Regions from separate parts of the Homo sapiens genome. Here all the other regions are linked to region 5. The links come from fine-mapping of genetic effects on gene expression. A gene starts in region 5. Each other region holds a variant in brackets. All regions are shown on one strand. Distances are from middle to middle. Region 1 has its middle 4.4 kb from the start of LINC02556. Region 2 overlaps BCR (BCR activator of RhoGEF and GTPase). Region 3 overlaps RSPH14 (radial spoke head 14 homolog). Region 4 overlaps BCR (BCR activator of RhoGEF and GTPase). Region 5 holds the start of BCR (BCR activator of RhoGEF and GTPase).

Evidence for each region.
Region 1: its variant is fine-mapped to the expression of BCR in putamen (GTEx, PIP 0.99). The same link has a PIP of 0.9 or more in caudate and cerebellum.
Region 2: its variant is fine-mapped to the expression of BCR in whole blood (INTERVAL, PIP above 0.99).
Region 3: its variant is fine-mapped to the expression of BCR in adrenal gland (GTEx, PIP 0.93).
Region 4: its variant is fine-mapped to the expression of BCR in unexposed skin (GTEx, PIP 0.97).

Annotation. Positions count from the first base shown.
Region 1 is chr22:23,319,034-23,325,412 of GRCh38, forward strand. It overlaps the pseudogene RPS10P30. Among named protein-coding and RNA genes, the nearest start is that of LINC02556, 4.4 kb to the right of the region's middle. The variant G/C (reference allele first, on the strand shown) is at 2,552.
Region 2 is chr22:23,300,614-23,304,613 of GRCh38, forward strand. The region is part of intron 16 of BCR (BCR activator of RhoGEF and GTPase); the gene reads left to right. Among named protein-coding and RNA genes, the nearest start is that of LINC02556, 24 kb to the right of the region's middle. The variant C/T (reference allele first, on the strand shown) is at 1,831.
Region 3 is chr22:23,073,737-23,077,736 of GRCh38, forward strand. All of the region lies in intron 4 of RSPH14 (radial spoke head 14 homolog), which reads right to left. All of the region lies in intron 1 of GNAZ (G protein subunit alpha z), which reads left to right. Among named protein-coding and RNA genes, the nearest start is that of GNAZ, 5.2 kb to the left of the region's middle. RefSeq lists an enhancer at 3,614-4,000. The variant A/G (reference allele first, on the strand shown) is at 1,755.
Region 4 is chr22:23,314,012-23,318,606 of GRCh38, forward strand. BCR (BCR activator of RhoGEF and GTPase) reads left to right here. Exons shown (of 23, transcript NM_004327.4): 21 at 1-62; 22 at 541-703; 23 at 1,422-4,026. The coding sequence ends at 1,511. It also overlaps the pseudogene POM121L11P. Among named protein-coding and RNA genes, the nearest start is that of LINC02556, 10 kb to the right of the region's middle. RefSeq lists enhancers at 1-474, 1,611-1,905 and a silencer at 1,656-1,775. The variant G/A (reference allele first, on the strand shown) is at 1,782.
Region 5 is chr22:23,176,096-23,182,238 of GRCh38, forward strand. BCR (BCR activator of RhoGEF and GTPase) reads left to right here and starts at 4,414. Exons shown (of 23, transcript NM_004327.4): 1 at 4,414-6,143. The coding sequence starts at 4,866. It also overlaps a transcript of RSPH14 not described here and the pseudogene BCRP8. RefSeq lists enhancers at 274-373, 3,334-4,144 and silencers at 761-860, 4,265-4,504, 4,575-4,844, 4,865-4,944.

The DNA of each region.
Region 1 (6,379 bases), 140 kb after region 5:
TAGAGACAGGGCCCGTGGCAGCAGCAGGCTCAGGGGAGCCCTGCACTGGTGGACTGGGGACCTGGTGGAGACCACGCCAAGGGCTGGACAAGGGGACGAGCCTCCACCCTGGCCTCTCCGCAGGCCTCAGCAGCCCCTCCCACAGGCAGAAGGGTTGACACTGGGTTCTGCCCTCACTGCAAGAGCTGCAAGTGCCACGTGCTGTTCTGCCCAATCTGGTGTCTGCAGGTGAGGAAAGGACTGCCGCTGGCCCGTTTCTGAGTGTTCAGCACCTAAGGGTGACAGCACTGTCTGTCCCTACCCTCCGGGTCCTGTTTGAAGATCAAACCCATGCTCACAGGCCGATATTTTTTTCTTTTAGAGACAGGGTCTCACTTTGTCACCCAAGCTGGAGTGCAGTGGTGCGATTATAGCTCAATGCAGCCTCCAATTCCCGGACACAAGGGACCTTCCTGCCTCAGCCTGCCAAGTAGCTTGGACTATAGCTGTGTGTTTTCTTATTATTTTGTAGACATGGGGTCTGGCTATGTTGTCCAGGCTATTCTCAAAATTCCCAGCCTCAAGCAATCCTCCCGCCTCAGCCTCTCAAAGGTTGGGATTACAGGTGTGAGGCAAGGCACCCAGCTCAGCCACAGAGCCCTATTGCATCTCTCTTACTAAGAGCAAGAGCTGACTTCCCCCTCATCCCCATTCCAGAGTGTTGGGGCTGTGTTCAGCCGAGGCCAGGCCACTGGCATGGGCCCAGGGAGCGGGATCATTCACTGCTGCCCCAAATCTGAGATCATTCCACCTTGACAAGACTTCCTCATCCAATCCCTTTACTTGACAGCTGGGGAAACCAGTGCACACAGAGCACCCCCAGCTCAGTCAGGGTCTCAGAGCTGATCCATGAGCGGAGGCTGAGATCCTGGGATCTTGTCCCCCAGCCTCCCTGCAAGCTTACTCCCTTTCTTCTAGAAGAGATGGGGCCAGACCTCGACCAGCAGCCCTGGCCTGGACATGACTGTGCTCATGCAGGTATTGAGGCTGAGATGCCCCGGCATCACATTTTTTTCTTTCTTTTTTTCTTTTTTTTTTGAGACGGTGTCTCACTCTGTCACCCAAGCTGGAGTGCAGTGGAATGATATTGGCTCACTGCAACCTCTGCCTCCCGGTTAAAGTGATTCTCCTGCCTCAGCCTTCCAAGTAGCTGGGCCTACAGGCTTGTACCACCACGCCTGACTAATTTTTGTATTTTTACTAGAGACGGGGTTTCCTCATGTTGGCCAGGCTCGTGTCGAACTCCTGACCTCAGGTGATCCACCTGCCTTGGCCTCCCAAAGTGCTAGGATTACAGGCATGAGCCATGGCATCACTTAAACGTAGTGAGAGGCCGGGCGCAGTGGCTCATGCCTGTAATCCCAGTACTTTGAGAGGACGAGGCTGTCAGATCACCTAAGGTCAGGAGTTCGAGACCAGCCTGGCCAACATGGTGAAACCGTGTCTCTACAAAAAAACAGAAAAAAATATCCCTGCGTGGTGGTGAGTACCTGTAGTCCCAGTTACTCAGGAGGCTGAGGCATGAGAATCGCTTAAACCTCGGAGGCGGAGGCTGCAGTGAGCTGAGATGGCGCCACTGCACTCCAGCCTGGGTGACAGAGCAAGACTTTGTCTCTAAATAATTAAATAAATAAATACGGCCGAGCATGTGCCTTAGGCCTGTAATCCCAACACTTTGGGAGGCTGAGGCAGGTGGTTCATGAGGTCAGGAGCCCGAGACGAGCCTGGCCAAGATGGTGAAACACTGTCTCTACTAAAAATACAAAAATTAGCCAGCTGTGGTGGCAGGCACCTGTAATCCCAGCTACTTGGGACACTGAGGCAGGAGAATCGCTTGAACCTGGAAGGCAGAGGGTGCAGTGAGCCAAGATTACACCACTGCACTCTAGCCTGGGCGATGGAGCAAGACTCCATCTCAAATAAATAAATTAATAAATACAGAGCAAGATTCCATCTCAAATAAATAAATGTACACCTGTAATCCTAGCACTTTGGGAGGCTAAGACAGGTCGATCACCTGAGGTCAGGAGTTCGAGACCAGCCTGACCAATATGGCAAAACTCCATCTCTACTAAAAATACAAAAATTAGCCGGGCGTTTTGACGTTTGCCTGTAGTCCCAGCTACTCGGGAGCCTGAGGCGGGAGAATCACTTGAACCTGGGAGGCGGAGGTTGCAGTGAGCCAAGATGGGGTGACTGCAGTCTAGCCTGGACAACAGAGAAACTCCGGCTCAAAAGAAAAATATAACTTCATAAAAACGAAGTAGGAAGAAACAGAAAACCTTGTCTAGATCTAGAACCATTAAAGGAATTGAATGTTTATTTTAAAATCTGTATCCCATCCAGTCAAAAATCTCACAAAAAACAAAACCAAAGAAAAGCACCTGGCCCAGATGATTTTATAGATAAGTTCAGCAAACATTAAGAAGAACAGAAAGTCTTTATCTTCTACAGAATTTTTTTAAAATAATTTATTTATTTATTTATTTTTGAGAGGAAGTCTCGCTCTGTA[G/C]CCCAGACTGGAGTGCAGTGGCATGATCTCTGCTCACCGCAAACTCCGCCTCCCAGGTTCAAGCGGTTCTCCTCCCTCAGCCTCCACAGTAGCTAGGATTACAGGTGTGCCTGGCTAATCTTTTGTATTTTTAGTAGAGACGGGGTTTCACCATGTTAGCCAGGGTGTTCTCGGACACCTGACCTCAGGTAATCCACCTGCCTCGGCCTCCCAATGTGCTAGGATTACAAGCACGACCCACAGTGCGCGGCCTACATAATTTTTTTTTTTTTTTTTGAGACGGAGTCTCGCTCTGTCGTCCAGGCTGGAGTGCAGTGGCGCGATCTCGGCTCACTGCAAGCTCCGCCTCCCGAGTTCAGGCCATTCTGCTGCCTCAGCCTCCCGAGTAGCTGAGACTACAGGCGCCCGCCACCACACCTGGCTAATTTTTTGTATTTTCAGTAGAGACGGGGTTTCACCGTGTTAGCCAGGGTGGTCTCGACCCCTGTCCTCGTGATTCGCCCGCCTTGGCCTCCCAAAGTGCTGGGATTACAGACATAAGCCACCACACACGACCCCGGCCTACATAACCTTACAGAAAAAGAAGCAAATGGAATTCTCCCCAACTCATTGTGAATTTAATATAAGCTTAAAACCAAACCAGACATAAATAGTACAAGCAGGCAAAAGTATAGACTAACTTCTTATGGACATATATGCAAAAATGCTAAATAAAATATTAGCAAATAATCCAGCAATGGATTAAACATGTATCATGACCAAGTTGGGGTTTTCCTAGGAAACTAAGATGATGTAATAAAAGAAAAAACTATTAAAGTAGTACAAACTATCAAAGGAAAAAACCTGTATGATCATTGCAACGGGTTCATTTGCGACATAATATAATTTTTTTCTTTTTTTTTAAGTCTTTTTGGCTGTAAGTTTATTCAATGCAAAATAATCTTCTCCAATTTTACTGAGGTGGCTGACGGCGTCCACGACCAAATCTGCCTCTAAACTGGAATTCGGTTGCTGACCCAGCCGCAGCCTCGGCTTTCTTGTTGGCACCAGGGGGCATAGCATTCCCTCTGTAGGTATCTCTGTCGGCTTCCCCTCTCGTTGAGTCTTGCAGGTCGCTCACCCTCCAGACCTTTAGACTGAGGCCTGCCAGTCCATGGACGGCTGCGGCGTAGGGTGGCAGGCACAATCTCCAGGGGCAGATGAAGGTAATCACGGAGATACTGGATATCCTCATTGGTAAGGTACCAGCAGACATGACTCCAGGCAAACTGTTCCTTCATGTAGTAGCCTCGGGACTTGAAAGACTGCATGGCCTTCATGACATGAAGGTTGGGCACATTCTTCCTTTTTTTTTTTTTTTTTTTGAGACGAGTCTCACTCTGTCGCCCAGGCTGGAGTGCAGGGCCATGATCTCGTCTCACTGCAACCTCCGCCCCCTGGGTTCAAGCGATTCTCCTGCCTCAGCCTCCTGACTAGCTGGGGTTACAGGGAACAGTGTTTTCTTTTGTCAAAAGAGCCTCTTAAGCCATTGATAATATTTCCCAAGCTTGTAACAGATACAAGCCTTTAAAGAATGACATTTGCAGTCACCCAGTAGGACATATCTTGAGATGAAATCAGAGTTGTGGGCTTTGCAGACAACAGCAGTCATTTCTGGTGGCTTCCGGGAGTGGAGGGGGACTGCAGCTTTGGCAATGTAGGTGATACCAAAAGGACTATAGTAATTTTTTCTTAGTAATTAAAAACTAGGCTGGGCGCGGTGGCTCATGCCTGTAATCCTGGCACTTTGGGAGGCCAGGGTGGGTGGATCACCTGAAGTCAGGAGTTTGAGACCAGCCTGACCGACATGGTAAAATCCTGTCTCTACTAAAAATACAAAAATTAGCTGGGCATATTGGCGCGTGCCTGTAATCCCAGCTACTGAGGTGGGTGAGGCAGGAGAATTGCTTGAACCCGGGAGGCAGAGGTTGCAGTGAGCCAAGATCGTGCCACTGTACTCCATCCTGGGTGACAGAGCAAGACTCCATCTCAAAAAAACAAAACAAAAACCAGACATAACAAGGTCGAGCTCAGTGGCTCCCGCCTGTAATCTCAGTAGTTTGGGAGGCCGAGAAGGGCAGATCACCTGAGGTCAGGAGTTCAATAACAACATGGTGAAACCCGGTCTCTACAAAAAATATAAAAATTAGCCAGGCATGGTGGCACACGCTTGTGATCCCAGAGGCTCGGGAGGCCAAGGCAGGAGAATCACTTAGGAGGCGGAGGGTGCAGTGAACTGAGGTCTTGCCACTGCACTCCAGCCTGGGCGACAGAATGAGACTCCGTCTCAAAAAAGAAAAAAAAATCCCCAGCCATAACAATATACATGTATGTTATACAATAACCAAACCAATATAGAAGGGTATATAGTGAAAGGAGAAGTATTGTTGTGGGTAAAATTGTTTCTATGAATAAATGGCTGATCCAGTATTTTTTTCCTCCAAAAAAACACCTTTTCCCCTTTGATTTAGTGTATACCACACAGAGTCGCTTAGCCGATTCAGTGACTTTTTTGATAGCTGGAGAATGCTTCCTAATGGTTGCAGGTGTGTAGGGGTTTTCTTGACATTTTCAGTAAGAAAGTGAATGTTGTGCCATAGGAAAGCTTTATCACAGGTGCACGTTGGTAGCCAACCAAATAACGTGAGTGTCAAGTACAGTATCTAGTGAGTGGAGAATAACTGTAATAATTACAATTACAGTTGTAGTTAAAGTGAAGTTTGTATCAAAATTTCTGTTTCAAAGGTGAACTTTTAGGGGGTGTATCTGCAGTGTTTCCTCCTCAGATGTGATTTCTCTGAAGCAGTGGTTCTCTATAACTGACTTGACACACAGTGCATCTGATATTTCGAATGACTTAAGTGATAGTATCAAAATTACTATCATATACATATTTAAATCACATGACTAACTTGTGTGTGGTATTATGCAAACTGCTCAGCTCAGTAAGGGAACAGAAATAAGAAAAAAAAAGGACAATATTGGGAGTCTTTTATACAATTAAATTTGTTCGATTAAAGGACTATCCTTTCTAAAAAAAAAAAAAAAAAGTCCTGCTTTCTTGGTGTTAAAATAAAGCATCTTTTATGAAATGATGGTGATAGTAAATGGTGATATACAGTAAATGTAAATAATAGCAAATACAAGGTTAGTTATCTTATTGTGATTTGTAAAAATAAAGAGAGCCGAGAATCTCGTTTTGCTGCTATTGTTTGGGAGTTCAGGAAAAAGTTCCTGGGGCTTTTGTTGTTAAGAAGATTCAAATACAAATTATTTCTTAAGAGTAAATATGAGTTTATTTTGAGGTCATTTGTCACAGTCTACTGAGAAATCCACTGAGAAAGCTTTTAAGTTTGCCTGGTATTAAAGATGTTCCTATTCTGATCATTGTTAAATAGATCTTTTCTTATTAGATATAAAATGTCAGGAGATATTTTATTTTGAGACAGAGTTTCGCTCTTGTTGCCCAGGCTGGAGTCTAATGGCATGATCTCGGCTCACCGCAACCTCTGCCTCCCAGGTTCAAGCGATTCTCCTGCCTCAGCCTCCCAGGTAGCTGGATTACAGGCATGTGCCACCACTCCTGGCTAATTCTGTATTTTTAGTAGAGACAGTGTTTCTCCATGTTGGTCAGGATGGTCTGGAACTCCCGACCTCAGATGATCCGCCCGCCTCAACCCCCAAAGTGCTGGGATTACAGGCACAAACCCCCTCACTCGGCCCCAGGAGATTTTTTTGTGTTGTGCCAACAAAATAAGCCTAGGCAGGGAAATTCCTTCTGGTGGTTGG
Region 2 (4,000 bases), 120 kb after region 5:
GGGAGACCGCCCGAAAATGGGTGGACCTCACTGCGTGGTGGGGACTTGAGAGCAGCTGCCAGGGTGCCACCAGGAGGGCCCCAGTCAGACCTGCTGGCTTGTACCTGGTCAGGTGCCCACATAACCCAGGCTGGCAGAGAAGTCTGGGAAACTCCAGCCAGCCAGCCAGAGCACCAGCTTCAAATGAAGCAGAGGCTCACAGTCCAAATCTCATCCCCGAGGCTCACATAAAACATTGGCAACAACAAAAATGAACTCTGATGCCCCCACTGGAACATGAGTTGTGAGCCCAGCAAGACACATAAATAGAGCAGGAGAAATGGGAGAAGACAAAAGTCTATGACTTGATAGAATGTTGCCCTCTAAGGAGAATAGACAGGGCTAACATGATTTAGCAACCTAGAAAATTTGCAGATGAAGAGAGATGCACCTGTCATCCTAGCACTTTGTGAGGCTGAGGAGGGCGGATCATTTGACATCAGGAGTTCAAGACCGGCCTGACCAACATGGTGAAACCCCGTCTCTACTAAAAACACAAAAAAATTAGCCAGGCGCGATGGCGCATGCCTGTAGTCCCAGCTACTCGGGAAGCCAAGGTAGGAGAATTGCTTGAACCAGGGAGGCAGGGATTTCAGTGAGCCAGGGTCGTGCCACTGCACTCCAGCCTGGGGGACAGAGCGAGACTATCTCAAAAAAGACAGAAAAAACCTGAAGAAATTCCTAATGGCAGCAAGGCTCCAATTTCCCCAGCTCTGCCAACTGTGGTGACTCCCTCTCTGGCCCAGGATGTGCAGGAGCACTGGGACTGTGTCTCAGGGCCCCCGTCCCTGTTGCGCTGCACTCGGCTAGGCTGCAGACTAGCCCTCCAGCAATGTGTCCCATACCCCGTCCCATGAATCTTGGATGGATGTTGATGCCTTCACCTTGAAAAATCCCTCCCTGAAGATACAGATTCAATGTCCCCTGCTCTGTGAAGGCTTCTCTGTCCCGTGACCTCACTTCCCAAGTAACCGTGCCATCTGAGCCACCAGTCAATCTGGGCCAAAGCCTGCCCTGGCTCTTGGCACATTTGCCACATCCTTCCTTTCCAGCTTCTCTGATCTAGACCATGAAGGCTGGGGAGAGGGGTCTTCTTGTTCTTGGGGACCCCCCCGCCAGGCATGGCACACAGGAAGCCTTCCATGACTAGGGTGGCACAGCGGGTTCCTGGTGTCTGAGGATGGACCAGGATGGCCTCGCTCACTCAAATGGCTCATTCAGGCTCGGGGCTGGCTTGGAAGGGACACCCGACTTGGGTCCTCTTGCACCTGCCCACACACAAGGACTTCAATTTGTGCTGTCAGTGGCTCTTTTCTGGACTGTGGGCACCACCACAGCTTTGTCCCTGCTGTACTGTGTATCCCCTTGCCTTTCTGGCTTGTGGCTCTGAACAAAGCAGGTCACCCATCCCAATTTCTAGAGCCCCCCCACCGCCACCCCCACCCTCATGGAGCCTCTATCGTGCAAGAAGGGAGGTGGGGACCTGGCAAGTCATCCAGGACAGGCATTTGAAGAGCAGGAGCCAAAATCTGAGACTCGGGCAAGTGGTTCCTAAACCCAGCTCATCAGCACCATTAAGGGGAGCAAAAAACCAGACCGGGCCAAGCCCCCAGCCCAGAAGATCCCGACTCCTGCTGCCCACAGACAGGCACATGAGCAGCTTTGCTGAGGACTCCTTTCCATCCCAGACCCCTGCCCTTGGGGCCTGCCAGGGACCTCTGCCCTCATGGTTGGATCTGGACACTCCCGGGATGCTGCGGCTTCTCTACCTGCTGCAACTGCCTCACCTCA[C/T]GGGAGGGTCTCTCTACGCAACTTCTGAGTCGAGGTGCATAAGCAGTGTGGGGGCTGTAGGCCCCTGTAGCTGGCTGCAGAGAGCCAAGCGCCTCCCACACGGTACAGCACAGAAGGCTCCTGGTGTCACTGGGAAAAGCCCAGATTCAAAAAGGCTGGGCTCCGGAGTCATGCACATCCTCTCTCAGGTATCCCTGTGCAGAAAACAGTGTCCACGGGGGAGAAAGAGGCCAGGCTGGTGTCGCAGAGCGCCAATGGCATAGTCACCACCACTCCTCCGACTTACTTCCTCCTGGGATCCCACAAACAAGCCCCCCAGCTGGGAGCCTGGACCTCCAGGGACCAGGGCAGCCGCCACCTACTTGGCGTGAGTCATGAATGCCCTTCACACAGCAATCAGATTCCTTCCTGTCTAGCCATGGTTCCCACCCATCACTCCCACTGACACAGGGACCAGGGGCTGGAGCCAGATAGTGCCTGCTCCATCGCCTCCTCACAAACGACAGATAAGGATGAGAACAGCAGCAAACGCTGACCCCCCACCCGTGAGAGCATAAGTCACTCAACCGTCAAGGCTGCATGGCCCCCCCCACCCCAATTTAATTCACCTGTGAGAGGGCAAGTGCCTGGCTCAGCAATTTCTAGTGCATGTAACAGTACTTGCTTTGTGCCAATATGTATTTTACTATATATATATAAACTCTAGATCCATTAAACAATGTATTATTACATAACTTATAGAGGTATGTTTTATGTCTCTGTCTGGGTACTGGAGATACCACAGAGAATGAACTGGACAAAGCCCTGTCCTCCACGTTTACTTTCCAGCAGCAGAGACAAACATAAGCCAAAATAAAGATCACGTCACAGGGGACGTGATGGGAGTCGGAGGAGGTATGGTCAGGTAAGGCGGATACCGTCATGAAGGCACCAAGAATCCTCATTTGTATTTCAAGGATTATCTGAGGGCCACGTAGGTCTTGTCCACACAGCCATTCACCCATTCAGGGGGGTCTCTGATGTGCCTGGGGGGCATTCCGAGATGAATGAGACATGCATGGTCCATGTGGCAGAGGCACCAATAGGAGAGAAACTTATGTATGTAGCCTCTTAAACAGACTTGGAGAGGGGCAGGCCCCAGGGGGTCTCTTGCAGCAGGAACACAAAATGAGTGATGTTTGTTTTGAACCAATATTTGGGGAAGATATGAAGATGTAAACATCATGAAAATGTAAGATCACATGAGCAAATTCTTACACAGATTCCACGGGATTCTTCTTGAAGCACACCGCCATCAACATGGATAGTGATACAGGTCCTCCTTGCTCTATTGAGAGCCACTTTTGGACCCTTTATTTTTAACTTTTGTACCATGAAATGCATCCATTTTTATAACCGAATGATTTTATAGTAAATTTACAGAGCTGTACAACTTTTACCAACAATCCAGTTTTAGAATATTTCTATCACCCCAATTTCCTTGTTGCCTTTTTTTTTTTTTTTTTTTTTAAGACAGGGTCTTGCTCTGTTGCCCAGGTTGGAGTACAGTGGTGCAACCACACTCAGCACAACCTTGATGTCCCAGGCTCAAGTGCTCTTCCTACCTTAGCCTCTCAAGTAGCTGGGACCACAGGCATGCGCCACCATGCCAGGCTATTTTTTTTTTTTTTTTTTTTTTTTGAGACAAGGTCTTGTTTTGCTGCCCAAGCTGGTCTCAAATTCCTAGGCTCAAGTGATCCTCCTGCCTTGGCCTCCCAAAGTGCTGAGATTACAGGTGTGAACCACCGTGCCCAGCCCCTGTTCCCAGTTATAGCCACTCCCAGACCCAAGCCGATCTGCTTTTTGTCTTTAGAGATTTGCCCATTCTTCACATTTCATAAACGTGGAATCATACTAGAGTGGGCTTTTTTGACTGATTTCCTCCACTTACCATTATGTTTTTGAGGTTTATTCATGTGGTAGCATTGTTTGGTTCCTTTTTATGATAATAATTTTCCATTGCATACATATAACATGTTTTTATTTCTGCATTTACTATTTGACAGACACTTGGATCATTTCTAGTTTGGGCTGTTAAGGTTGATGCAGCCACGAACATGTCCTTGGTACCAGTCTCTATATGGACGTATGTTTTCATTCACTGAGTAAACACCTAGTAAGATTGCTGGGC
Region 3 (4,000 bases), 100 kb before region 5:
ATCCATTCATTTGTTCAGCTAACATTTACCAGCGCCTGCTGCATGCCAGGCACTGTGCCAGGTGCAGGGGTACAGCAGGGACGTAGCATCCACTCACAGTGCTCACACCAGACGGGCAGGGGTTGACAGTAACACATGTTACTAAGTGCTGCACTGTGGAGAACACTAAAGCAGAAGGTGGGGGACACGAGATGGGGGTGGGGGACTGACACAGTGCCATGCAGAAGTGCTGGGTGAGTGGTGTGGCTGAGCAGGGGAGAGACAGCAGGTGCAAAGGCGCTGAGCAGACACTCCCTGGCCCCTGGAGGCCCCACCAGAGTGGCTGGAACCTGGTGCAGGAGTGTGGGTGGGGTGTCAGGGCCAGGTCCTGCAGGACTCAGTGGGCCCCAATGAGGCAGGAAGACCTTGGCAGGGTTGGAGCAGAGAAGAGACTGGAGCTGCCCTCCCAGGAGGAGCTAATCTACACTTTGAAAAGATCTCTCTGCTGAGGTGGGAAAATAGGCTAGGGTGGGGTAAGGCTGGGGGCCATGAGGGGCTACTGCAACATCCCAGGCAGAGAGGCTGCTGACCCAGGGGTGGGAGCTCTGGAGGCCCTGAGAAATGCAGGTGGGAGATTTGTTTTTTTAAAGCTGCAGCTTTTAAAGGACAGCTGCAGTTTTGGTCTGAACCAGTAGAAAGATGGAGCTGGTATTGGCTGAGAAGCAAGATACAGAAAAACCCATTCTGGAGAGGTGGGGAATTAGGAGGTGGGTCTGAGACCTGGAGAGCCATTGATGGGCACATGTGGCCAGAGGGAGAGCAAGGCTGGAGGTGGCAACCTGGAGCCCCTGGCACTGAGGTGTGTGGCAGGCCGGGGACCACGTGAGGTCACTTAGGGATCAAGGGTAGGTAGGATCAGAAGAGGCTGAGCTGGGCTCCTGGGCCTCCACTGTGGGGAGGATGAGTTGAGAAGCATCGAGAAAGAGAGATTGAGGATTGACGGGCAAGTGAGGTGGAAGCACAGTCACAGTGGCGCCTCGGGAGGCTGGAGAAGAGCGGGTCCCAGAGAGCAGGTCCCCTGTGTCAAGCAGGCAGGGCATGCCCAGGGACTGAGCAATGCAGGCACAGCTGGCCACATGATTTTGGGGGCCCCCATTTGAAAATTATTAAGGGCCTGACATGATGGCGCACACCTGTAATCCTATACTATGGGAGACTGAGGTAGGAGGATCACTTGAAGTCAGGAGTTTGAGACCAGCCTGAGCAACATGTAAGAGCCTGTCTCTACAAAAGTAAAACTAAAATTATGCATTCCAGAACAGCAACAGCAGAGCATTAAAACTGTATGGATGCCCAAGTGAGTGCCCAGGAAGCTGGCTGGTCACAGGGACCTCAAGGATAATATTGGGGATGTAGTGGCCCCTGTGGAGAAGGAAGGCCTGGAGGGTGGGCCCGCAACCTGCCTGCTGCCCAGTCCCCACAGCATTTCTCCTCCCTTCCCTGAGTGGGCGGGTGGGTTGCGTTGGACTTTCAGGGCCGCTGGAGTCAGTCACACCCAGCCTGTGAGCTTCACCTTGGCACCATGGCCCAGGGAACCCAAAGTGAAAACTGCAGCAGGCAATTGCCTGCTGCAATTCTTCACTAAATGTCTTGCTTCTTGCCCCTTGGTCTGTGGACCCTTGGGCAAGAGGCAGCAGGAGGCACATCTTGAGGTTGAGGTTTAGATGGTCCCATCAGCAGGCCCTGGACCTACATGGCCACAGCTTCACACAGCA[A/G]TGGCTTCTTTGCGTTCATCTCTTTTCCAAAGGAAGCTGCCACATCACAGAGTTTTGAGTTATTTGCTTCTAAATTAAGGTATAACTCTCTTTTAGAGACGTCCCTGGAGAATCCATCAAAAAGTGCTAAGAAGCGAGACTGTTAAAAGCCACAGTGCAGGGAGGGGCCTTACACATAGTGTCAAGCCCGGGGGTGTTCCTTCTAGCAGCCTCCAACCAGAAACACACCCCGTCCCCGAGGGCTCAGCCAGGCCTCTCATGGCCATGGGGGACCGTGGTTGTGGTTAGAGCAAACCTTTCAGGAGACCCTTGGCCCCTGGGATGGAGAGCTGCCAGGACAGAGGTCCCTTTGTGAGGTCTGCCCCTGTGAGTCACGGAGGCCAAGGTCCTTTGTGAGGTCTGCCCCTGTGAGGTCTGCTCCTTTGTGAGGTCTGCCCCTGTGAGTCATGGAGGCCAAGGTCCTCTGAGGTGTGGAGAGTGGACCTCATGTGCCCAGTGCCTTAGTAGGTCTGGGCAGCCCCGCATCTGGGCAGCATGGTCCCTCTCACCCTGGTTGGTCATAGGAAGGGTGGCTGAGGAGGAGGCTGTGCTGGAGGCTGGCATGGCAGTGAGGGCTGGCTCTTAGGCTGTGGCCCTGCTCCAGACAGGGCTGGTGGGGCCTCTATGTAGAACAGCGCCATGTTCCTGACCATGTTTCCTATGCCCTTTCCTGCTGCTATTTTTTTCCCCTTAGCACTCGCCACAGCGTGACCTGCTCCCTATTTGATTCATTCATCGTATGTGTTTGTGTAAGCTCCATGAGGGCAGGGACGTTGCGGAGTCACCATTGAGAATCGCCACCCAGGGAGTCGCTGTGGAGGGACTGAATATTCGCAGACAGTCATGCCTCAGTGGCCCTGTCCAGCCCCTTTTGCCCTAGGGCTGAGCTGTGTGCTCGTGCGCTGCAGAACCCCTGCTCCAGCTCAACCCTCTGCTCCTAAGAGGTTGTACCTTTGGGTCCCCAGAGATGTGTCTCTGGGCCTCAGGTTTGGCCACCAAACACAAACCACCCTCAGGTGGATGCTACCAGCTGGGCCCCGTCAGGCCCAACTGTGGGTTACTCTCAAGCCAGAGGCAGGTGGACAGATGCCTCGGGCTGACGCCGGGCCACTCAGTGATGCAATGTGACTCAGTGGGGCCTTTGTCAGACACGGGGATTCACAGAGTGATGACCTTCAGAGGCATGTCTATGGAAAACTGTCCTAAGGGGATGAGCCAAGACCCTGAAGGTAGTAAAGGAACATGATGATGGTAGAGTGGCCTTTCCAGGTGGCCCCTGTGCCCCAAGATCAAGGAGTGGCCTCTCAGGCCAGTAGAGGAGCTCAGGGCAGGGGAAGGCACCAGGCCTGGGTAGAAGTCCAGCTCTGCCTGTGATGGTGACCCTGCGAATGCTTTCCACTCTCTGGGCCTTCCTTGCCTTTGAGTTGGAAGCTCTGGGCTGGGTCAAGTGTACAGATAGTTTCCTTCCTTATCTCAACTCTGGAGTGACCGTCCAAAGCATGCTGTGCTGAAGAGGATTCTAAGGCTGTGCTGCAGCCCAGAGGGAAAGAGTCATGGTCGATTAGTGATGTCTGCAGCGGGCACGGGAGGCAGGATTTAGATGAGCTTGCCAGTGACTGGTGAACCTCACCACTGTACCCCCTCCTATCTAGCAGCTTTAACCCACCCTATCTCTCCTTACATGCCCCTTCCTTAGTGACACTGATGCTAACCCCTTATTGGGAAGGACTGGCCTCCGTCTTCCTGAGTCCCATGAGCAGCTCAGGTCATTGCTTGCTGACTGTCTCTTCTCTCATTTGATGCCTCACTCCCTGTAGTGACCTCAGGGTCCAACCCCATGCTTCGTTCATGGCAGCCTCTTTCTGTACACTGAAGAATGAATAAGTGAATGAGTGGTAGAGACTCAACCACTCTACAAGGCCGGGAGCCTCCTCTTGGATGTACACCTGATGTTGATCTCTGTTCCAGCAAGGAGCCCCTAGAAGCCTTCTTGGAATTGGGAGGCTGGATGGCCACGGAAACAAGGTGCTAAACCGTGTGGTTTCAGCTCCAGGTGTTGCAGGAGTGGGGTCAGCAAGGGAGGAGGGGGCAAGGTGACTAAGGAGGGCTGAGGCATGTAAAGTACCAGGCTCTGTGTTTGTGGGGCCCGGTGGTCCTGTCTGACCTTGGCTATGGAGCAGCTAATCAGGCTTCCCCAGAGGCAAAGC
Region 4 (4,595 bases), 140 kb after region 5:
CTGCTGTCCCTGCCGGAGGCCAACCTGCTCACCTTCCTTTTCCTTCTGGACCACCTGAAAAGGTAGCCCAGCTCTCCCATGGCAGCCCAGGGCTCCAGGTCCCCAGGCCGCAGAGTGCCCCTCTGCTCCCACTAGACCCCCAACACCGAGGACCTTTTCTCCTGACCCTTGTCTGCAGTCACTCACTGCCTTTGGCGACTAGTGCCACTGCCACCCCTGCCCCAGCCTCTCTTCTTTGCCACCCTCCTCTCTCTGCACTGTGGCCTTAAAAAAGAGCTCAGAGCTTTGGCCGTGGCCAGCAGTGCACTTGGACCCCCCTCTTCCCTCCGAGTCACATCAAGTAGGAGACCTCCCCACCAGCCCAGAGCTGGCTCCTTGTCCTGGGCCACTGAGACCCAGAAGTACCAGGGCTGGAGTCAGCTTGCAGCACAGCCAGGGTCGAGGTCACTCCCTTCCTGAGAACTCCAGCACAGCCCAGCCCCTCTGCCTCTCTCCTGGGGGTGGCGTTGAAACAGCACCCGCTGCTTTGGTCCTCTACAGGGTGGCAGAGAAGGAGGCAGTCAATAAGATGTCCCTGCACAACCTCGCCACGGTCTTTGGCCCCACGCTGCTCCGGCCCTCCGAGAAGGAGAGCAAGCTCCCTGCCAACCCCAGCCAGCCTATCACCATGACTGACAGCTGGTCCTTGGAGGTCATGTCCCAGGTATGGGAAGACAGGCTCCAGCCCATGCAACCCTGACCTGACAGAGGTGGCCTCTGCCTGCCCCACCCCCAGTCCTGCCCATCTTCTTACTTGCATTGTATGTGGTGTGGCCAACATTCACAGAGAGGGACTTGCCTAGGTCTGCATGGATGGGAGTGATAGTGGGGGCCCAGGCCACCTCCTGGTCCTGCTAGTGCACTTTGCTGGAAGCTTAAAACTACCTCAAGTGTTCGGGTGTGGTGGCTCATGCCTGTAATCCCAGCACTTTGGGAGGCCAAGGCAGGATAACCAATCCCAGGTGTTTGAAACCAGTCTGGGCAATGTGGCAAACCCCATCTCTAGAAAAAATAAAAAGAAAAATTAGCCAGGCATTGTGGCACACATCTGTAATCCTAGGTATCTGGGAGGCTGACACAGGAGGATTTCTTGAGCCCAGGAGTTAGAGGCTGCAGTGATCCATGATGGAGCCACTGTACTCCAGCCTGGGGGACAGAGCAAGGCCCTGTGCATCTCTAAAATAAATAACCACCCCCCACCCAACAAGTCATGCCTTGTCAGGACCCCACCCCACCCCCATCTCACTGTAAGGGGTTCATGACACCAGCAGGGGTCCCCAGCACCTGAGATGGACTTGGAGGCTTGGGCCCCAAAGACCTCCCACCAGCAGCTGTGAGCCCCGCTCTGAGCCACTCTTCTCTTCCCTACTCTGCCCGGGCAGGTCCAGGTGCTGCTGTACTTCCTGCAGCTGGAGGCCATCCCTGCCCCGGACAGCAAGAGACAGAGCATCCTGTTCTCCACCGAAGTCTAAAGGTCCCAGTCCATCTCCTGGAGGCGGACAGATGGCCTGGAAACCTCTGGCTAATCGGGCCATCCGTAGAGCGGGAACCTTCCTGAGGTGTCCTTGGGCCACCCCCAAGTGTTGGGCCATCTGCCAAGAGACAGCGACCCAAAGCCGAAGGACAGGTGGCCTGGAAAGATCCCGCCCAGGTCTGGGAGCCCCAGGCTGGCCTCAGACTGTGGTTTTTTATGTGGCCACCTGAGGGCGCCCCAAGCCAGTTCATCTCGGAGTCCAGGCCTG[G/A]CCCTGGGAGACAGGGTGAAGGGAGTGGTTTTTATGAACTTAACTTAGAGTCTAAAAGATTTCTACTGGATCACTTGTCAAGATGCGCCCTCTCTGGGGAGAAGGGAACGTGACTGGATTCCCTCACTGTTGTATCTTGAATAAACGCTGCTGCTTCATCCTGTGGGGGCCGTGGCCCTGTCCCTGTGTGGGTGGGGCCTCTTCCATTTCCCTGACTTAGAAACCACACTCCACTTCTAACAGGGTTTGAGAGGCTTAGTCAGCACTGGGTAGCGTTTTGACTCCATTCTTGGCTTTCTTTTTCTTTCCAGAAGGATTTTTGTGCAGAAATGGGTCTTTTGTTGCCATGTTAGTCCTCCTTGGAAGGCAGCTCAGAAGGCCTGTGAAATGTCAGGGGACAGGACCCCCAGGGAGGGAACCCCAGGCTACGCACTTTAGGGTTCGTTCTCCAGGGAGAGCGACCTCGTCCCCCGATCCTGACCGCCCTTCCGGCCCACGCTCTCCTGTTTGGCTTCCACAGGCCTGGACTTCTCTGGCTTCTCTGCCCACACACTCCCTGCCCCCAGTGTCCCTGCCCCTGCCCCAGCACAGGTGACTTCATTTCTGTCCTCTCAGCTCAGTGGACTCGCTCAACTTTTGTATAAGTCTCCACTTGGTGGCAGCAGCTTGCTGATGACTTGTTTTAAAACTTTCATCCTAAATAACCTTTTGATACTTGAATATTTGTAAGTTTTATACATAGTTTCTAATTTTTTTCCGAACAGATCCAGATACCTAATAAGATGCTGGAATGTAATCCCTGGACAATCCGTGTCCTGGCAGCATTTGGTCTTCCTCTAAGCGCCTGGCTCCGCTGTTCTCAGGAGTGGGTTCTGAAGTCTCTGGAGAACAGGATACGTGGAGGGTTAGGAAGGGGCCAGGCCTAGAGACGGGAGACTCCCTCCCGGAGCAGGTGGAGGCACAGGACCATTCGCTACCCCATCTGCCGACACCTGCGGGGGAGCCCAGGCATTCTTTGTAAACCCTCCTGACCACCTGGCTCAAAGAAAACAGAAGCATGGAGACCGCCAAGTATTTTCAAGAAATAACCCCATGAATATTCCATCACTTTTTTAGAAAGAGGGGCTTGGGGCAGGCAGAGGAGAGAAGGGAGAGCAAACTGAGAGCCAAGTTTCCACACGGTCCTGCAGGAGGAGAGGATGCAGCTGCCCAGAGGGAAGCAGGATCACATTTAAGGAAGTGTGTGGGGTCCCTGGATGACACCAGCACCCAGTGCGGCTCTGTCTGGCACCCGCTCCCAAGGTGGGAGGAGTGGGTGTCCCCTGTGTGTCAGTGGGCAGCTCCTGCTGAACCCGCAGCTCACTAGGGAGCCTGACAGTGGGGCCATGCGCCTGACACTCCTCTCTGCTTGTGGACCTGGCAAGGCAGGGAGCAGAAAACAGCCACTTGAAGGCTTTCTGTCTGCGTCTGTGTGCAGTGTGGATTTAGTTGTGCTTTTTTCTTGCTGGGAGAGCACAGCCACCATTTACAAGCAGTGTCACCGTCGTGGGTGGCGAGGACAGAACAGGAGCCTCTGCTCTCTGTACCTATCTGGGCCCGGTGGGCTCCCTTGTCCTGGCTTCCATCTCTGTCTCAGCGACCATTCAGCCCTGCGCAGGAACACGTGTTGCTTAGAAAAGCCAAATCCAGCCTTGTCTCTGCCTCCTCTGGTCTCATGATGTGCATCTGTTACCTTGAAACTGGAAACCAGTCTATCAATGTCTGTGCCAATTTTTTATTCCCTCCCCAACCTCCTTCCCCATACGACTTTTTATTTATGTAGGATGTGTGCTGTCTAATGATGGGATGACCACACTTTTCCATGTTCTAAAAGTGCTCCTCTCCCGCAGGGTCCCAGGGCTGGTGGTTGCTTTGGGTCTACAGCTACGTCTTACCCACCTCCTGCCTCAACAGCCTGTGTGGTGGCAAAGCCGGTGTGGGGCTGGGGAACGCAGCGTTCTCCAGGAGGGGGACCTGGCTCTCCTTCTGCAATGCAGGCGAAGGCCTAGATGCCAGTGTGACCTCCCACAAGGCGTGGCTTCCAGACTCCCCGGCCGGAAGTGATGCTTTTTTGCCTTGGGCCCTGGGTTTGAAGCAGCCTGGCTTTCTCTTGGTAAGTGGCTGGTGTCTTAGCAGCTGCAATCTGAGCTCAGCCACCTACACACCACCGTGGCCGACACTTTCATTAAAAAGTTTCCTGAGACGACTTGCGTGCATGTTGACTTCATGATCAGCGCCGCTGGGAAGAACCCCTGAGCCGGTGGGGTGGGGCTGGAAGCAGCAGGTGCAGTGATAGGGCTGGGTGCCCAGGAGGCCTCAGTGCTCAATCAGGCCAAGGTGGCCAAGCCCAGGCTGCAGGGAAGGCCGGCCTGGGGGGTGTGGGTGAGCACAGGCAGGCACCAGCTGGGCAGTGTTAGGATGCTGGAGCAGCATCCGTAACCCCACTGAGTGGGGTAGTCTGGTTGGGGCAGGGACCGCTGTTGCTTTGGCAGAGAGAGATGATCCCCACTGGGGAGAGGCTGTTCTGACTCTGCAGGTGGGACAGGGACAGATGGCCACCAGGGTGACCCGGCTGGTCTTCCTTTGCTATGCTAAGCCCTGGGACATGGAGGATTCCTGCCACCCTGGGCCCGGGTTCTTACCTGTGGCCACCGCTCTGGCACGAGCCCCTCAGTCTTGGGTGGTTTCTGCCTGGTCCGGGATTTGGTGTTGCTGCTGAGTCCAGCCTTTCCACCACCTCCGCATGGGCCGTGGGTGTTGTCAGCTGCCTCCCGC
Region 5 (6,143 bases):
TCATTGCTCCTTGGTGCAACAGGGTCACCCTCTGCCTGATGCCTGCTCATGGATGGGCTATGCGGACCTGAAGCCCTGTGCAGGCACCTCTGCTTGCCTGTTGCAGTCACCATCCCAAAGTCATCCCCATGAGCTGGCCTCCCTCTGTTGGGGAAAAGCTGGGTGTGGGGAGAGAAGCTGAGGCAGGGCTTGCATGTCTGCTAGACTTGCTGGCTCCTTCCTTCTAGCACTCTCATTATCTCAAGTAGCCATATGTTTCAAAGAAAATGCTAAACTGTCACAGCTGTAGCTCATTTGCTTGATACACCGCTTCCTTTCAATCCCCACATCCTCACCACCTGTTTCTTTGTTTGATCACCAATAAATAGCATAGGCTCCTAGGGCTAGAGGCCTTTGCAGCCTCTATACTAGCGTTGGCCCCCTGGTCCCACTTTCTCTCTTGCCTTTTCTCACTCCTTTGACTCCGCCAGACTTTGTCGCCCCCACGGCCTGGTGTTGGGTCTGATCACCCCAACATCCCTCATTCCCCACACCCACTCCATCTACAAGTCCCATGAGTTTTACTTCCAGAATGCTCCTGAATTCTAACCCCTTCTCTGGGGTACCTTGCTTCTGCCCTATTCTGGGTCACCAATGCCTTCCTCATAAACAATTGCCACAATCCCCAACCACTCCCCCTACTCCCACCTCCCACGCCCAACCTTCCATGCAACAGACCCCAGCAAGTCACCCCGCTTCCTGTGCGGTTGAGTACAGCAGCCACGGTGGCCATTGAAACTCACTAACACGAAACCAAACATTCAGTTCTTCAGCTGCCCCAGCCACGTTTCAGATGCTCAGTAATCACACGGGGCAGCTCGTGGCTGCCACATTGTGCAGCACAGATTACAGAACATGCCCATGGTACTGGCAAGTTCTATCGGACAGTGCAGGTCTAGAACCTTTGAGCAGCTTTTCCTTGCATTTAGAATAAAACCCAAACTTTGTGCAGGCCTACAAGGCCCTGCCTCACCTCTGATCCCACTTCCTACTGCCTACACCAGCCTCATCTCCCAACCTGGCTGCTCCTCAAACAGAACTTTGAAGCCTCCTTGTCCTTTGCCTACCTGGTCCTTGTCCTTAGGACCAGCTCAGGCATCACCTCCCCTGGCAAGCCTTTCCCCGAACTGTGCCTTCTCCCACAGGACACACACACCTTTGCTATAGCCGGGCTGTGAATGCCTTATCACTTCCTCCCCCATACACAGGCATCGCTCTCGGTGACCTATCTGCCCTCCAGGCCATGCACACATCTGGTTCCTCATTCCACCAGACCTGGTTGAGCACTTACTCTGAGCTCACTATATGAGAGACATAGGGGAACAAGACAAACAGGTCTGTGACCTTGCAGAGTTTAGATCTAGTTGGAACAGACACTGAGTGGGGGATTACAGAGTGTTATGTGTGTCTAAACCCCATGCCCATGCCCATGCCCTGCTGCATTCCTCCCTAGGGAGGGATGGATGATAAGAAAACTCTACAGGAAAGGCCCAGAGGCTCAGGATAGGGGTGCTTTCAGGGAAGTCCTGAGGAGAGAACAGTGTCCTTGGGGCCAGAAGAGGCTGTCCCACAAGGGAGAAAGCCACTATCTGGACGTGTCCTTGTGCCTAACAAAAAGCCATTTGCTATGCCAAGAGAACAGAGCATGCAAACTCAAACTAAACAGCTTCAGAGTTTACTTAGAGACAGGGTCTTGCTCTGTTACCCAGGCTGGAGTGCAGTGGCGTGATCCTAGCTCACTGAAGCCTCAAATTCCCAGGCTCAGTGCAATCCTCCCACCCCAGCCTCCTGAGCAGGTAGAACTACAGGCACGAGGCACCATGCCAGGCTAATTTTTAAATTTTTTTGTAGAGATGGAGTCTCACTATGTTGCCCAGGCTGGTCTTGAACTCCTGGGCTCAAGCGATACTCCTGCCTCGGCCTCCCAAAACACCAGGATTACAGGCATGGGCCACTGTGCCTGCCTTTATCATACCCATTTTAAAGAAGAGGCCATTGAGGGCTGGGTGCAGTGGCTCACACCTGTAATTCCAGCACTACAGGAGGCCAAGGCGGGCAGATCACGAGGTCAGGAGTTCAAGACCAGCCTGGCCAACACAGTGAAACCCCGTCTCTACTAAAAATACAAAAAACTAGCTGGGCGTGATGGCAGGCGCCTGTAATTCCAGCTACTTGGGAGGCTGAGGCAGCAGAATCACTTGAACCCAGGAGGCAGAGGTTGCGGTGAGCAGAGATCACTCCACTGCACTCCAGCCTGGGCAACAGTGTGAGACTCCGTCTCAAAAAAAAAAAAAAATAGGCCACTGAGGATGAGAGCACTGCTCAGTATGGCACTACTGGGATTCCAGCCCCTTTAGTGGCCAGGGCATCATTTGCATCTCAGTTTCCTCACATGCAAAATGGGCTATTTGCAGCCTGATGGGAAGGGGATGAGAAGGTCCGCTGGGTCCAAGGGACCAGGATGGCAGGAGGTTAGCAAGGCCTGCAGAGGGCAGCAGTGAGCTGCGCACCGCCCACCCAGCCTAGAAACTGGGGCCCATGGGTTTTCCAGGGCAGGAATGTTCTCCAGGGGCACTAATATTAACAGGCAATCACGAAATCGACCCCTACACACCATTTATCAGGTTGTGTTTTATGTTTGCCCCATCTGGGCATTTTATGCAGGATGCTCTCAACATTTTGTACCGTGGCCCACAGGACTGGGTGGAAGACAGGACAGCTCAGAGCAGGGAGTGAAACAAAATCTTTGATGGTTCTCTAGGGAAGCCTGGAAATCTGAGACAGGGCAAAGAGCAGGGAGTCTGATGAGCACAAAATTAAAATACCCAAACCAGCCTGCCGGGTCAGGGGAAAAGGAAGCAGGATTGGGCACATGAAGAACAGATGACAAAACTGAGGCTCAGAGAGGCTGAGAGAGACACTGCTGAGGTCACACAGCCAGGAGTCGGCAGGAAGCCCTGAACCCAAGCAGGGCTGGCCTGGCTACTAGCCTGGGCTCAGTCCTTTAGATTGGACTTCAAAGTATCTGCTCCAGATGACGCTGGCATTGGGAGGAGGGCATGATAATCCCTAACATCCACACAGGGACAACAGCACTTGGAGGCAGATGTGCTTCTCACTTCAAGGAAACTGAGGCAGAGAGGGAGAGGTGGTCAGGACTCAAGCCCAGTAATTCATTTGCCAAATCCTGTTTCCTTTTCCCCCAACCCAGCGGGCTGGTTTGGGTATTTTCAGTTTGTGCCCATCAGAGTCCCTGCAGAGTGCTCTCCACTGTGTCTCAGATCTCTGTGTCCCCAGAGAACCATCAAAGGTTTTGTTTCACTCCCTGCTCTGGGCTGTCTTCCACCCAGCCCTGTGAACCTCAGTGCAGGTTGGCCGCCCCCTTAGAGGGAGGCTAATCAGGGAAGTTCTGAGTCAGGTCGTCCTGGAAAAACTACATTGACCTCTGGAGCTCAAGAGAGGCCAGGGGACAAACACATGGCTCAGCACACAGGAAGGCAGGTGTGGGTATTGAGTGACCTGAGGGAGAAATCCCTATTTATCATCCATCATGTGGTCCTGCTGTGACAAACCCGTGTGGCAGCCACCCACAGCAGATCCACAACGTGAGAGGCCCGCTGAAACAAGGGTGCTGGCATTGGTTACTCAGCCTGGCCCTCCCTGCCTTGCGGGGTGACCTGCCTGGTCCTGGCCTCTCTGTGAGTTGGGCCCTGCTGGGTGGTCCCTAGTGTGCCCAGCCCTGAGGCTGGTGAGAGGCCAGGCTGTGAGGTGTGAGGAACTTACCTGCGTCTCCATGGAAGGTGCCCTCCGCATCGTTGGGCCAGATCTGCCTGGTCTTGCAGATGCCCACGATGGTGGCCTCTGACACGACGACTGGGCAGTGCCGGTGACGCTTATGGCACTGCGGCGTGGTAGGGGCAGAGGGGGGAGGTTGCTTCTGTCGGAGGACTGCTGCGAGTTCTGCCAGAGAGAGCAGCTCTTGTCCCGGAACATGAGGTAGGTGGTGGGGCTTGGGGACACGCGGCTGGACTGGCCGGAGAAGTCCTCCTGGCCGGAGGGGAGCCAAGTGTTCCTGTTCCAGGACTGCAGAACTGGCCCAGACCTCTGTATTGGAAAGGTCTTTATGGACCAGGGAGTCCGGTGTCTTTTTTACGGGGGACCCCTGGGCTGCGAGTTGCACAGTCCAATTCGCTGTTGTTAGGGCCTCAGTTTCCCAAAAGGCACAGGGACGGGGGGAGGGTGGCGGCTCGATGGGGGAGCCGCCTCCAGGGGGCCCCCCCGCCCTGTGCCCACGGCGCGGCCCCTTTAAGAGGCCCGCCTGGCTCCGTCATCCGCGCCGCGGCCACCTCCCCCCGGCCCTCCCCTTCCTGCGGCGCAGAGTGCGGGCCGGGCGGGAGTGCGGCGAGAGCCGGCTGGCTGAGCTTAGCGTCCGAGGAGGCGGCGGCGGCGGCGGCGGCACGGCGGCGGCGGGGCTGTGGGGCGGTGCGGAAGCGAGAGGCGAGGAGCGCGCGGGCCGTGGCCAGAGTCTGGCGGCGGCCTGGCGGAGCGGAGAGCAGCGCCCGCGCCTCGCCGTGCGGAGGAGCCCCGCACACAATAGCGGCGCGCGCAGCCCGCGCCCTTCCCCCCGGCGCGCCCCGCCCCGCGCGCCGAGCGCCCCGCTCCGCCTCACCTGCCACCAGGGAGTGGGCGGGCATTGTTCGCCGCCGCCGCCGCCGCGCGGGCCATGGGGGCCGCCCGGCGCCCGGGGCCGGGCTGGCGAGGCGCCGCGCCGCCGCTGAGACGGGCCCCGCGCGCAGCCCGGCGGCGCAGGTAAGGCCGGCCGCGCCATGGTGGACCCGGTGGGCTTCGCGGAGGCGTGGAAGGCGCAGTTCCCGGACTCAGAGCCCCCGCGCATGGAGCTGCGCTCAGTGGGCGACATCGAGCAGGAGCTGGAGCGCTGCAAGGCCTCCATTCGGCGCCTGGAGCAGGAGGTGAACCAGGAGCGCTTCCGCATGATCTACCTGCAGACGTTGCTGGCCAAGGAAAAGAAGAGCTATGACCGGCAGCGATGGGGCTTCCGGCGCGCGGCGCAGGCCCCCGACGGCGCCTCCGAGCCCCGAGCGTCCGCGTCGCGCCCGCAGCCAGCGCCCGCCGACGGAGCCGACCCGCCGCCCGCCGAGGAGCCCGAGGCCCGGCCCGACGGCGAGGGTTCTCCGGGTAAGGCCAGGCCCGGGACCGCCCGCAGGCCCGGGGCAGCCGCGTCGGGGGAACGGGACGACCGGGGACCCCCCGCCAGCGTGGCGGCGCTCAGGTCCAACTTCGAGCGGATCCGCAAGGGCCATGGCCAGCCCGGGGCGGACGCCGAGAAGCCCTTCTACGTGAACGTCGAGTTTCACCACGAGCGCGGCCTGGTGAAGGTCAACGACAAAGAGGTGTCGGACCGCATCAGCTCCCTGGGCAGCCAGGCCATGCAGATGGAGCGCAAAAAGTCCCAGCACGGCGCGGGCTCGAGCGTGGGGGATGCATCCAGGCCCCCTTACCGGGGACGCTCCTCGGAGAGCAGCTGCGGCGTCGACGGCGACTACGAGGACGCCGAGTTGAACCCCCGCTTCCTGAAGGACAACCTGATCGACGCCAATGGCGGTAGCAGGCCCCCTTGGCCGCCCCTGGAGTACCAGCCCTACCAGAGCATCTACGTCGGGGGCATGATGGAAGGGGAGGGCAAGGGCCCGCTCCTGCGCAGCCAGAGCACCTCTGAGCAGGAGAAGCGCCTTACCTGGCCCCGCAGGTCCTACTCCCCCCGGAGTTTTGAGGATTGCGGAGGCGGCTATACCCCGGACTGCAGCTCCAATGAGAACCTCACCTCCAGCGAGGAGGACTTCTCCTCTGGCCAGTCCAGCCGCGTGTCCCCAAGCCCCACCACCTACCGCATGTTCCGGGACAAAAGCCGCTCTCCCTCGCAGAACTCGCAACAGTCCTTCGACAGCAGCAGTCCCCCCACGCCGCAGTGCCATAAGCGGCACCGGCACTGCCCGGTTGTCGTGTCCGAGGCCACCATCGTGGGCGTCCGCAAGACCGGGCAGATCTGGCCCAACGATGGCGAGGGCGCCTTCCATGGAGACGCA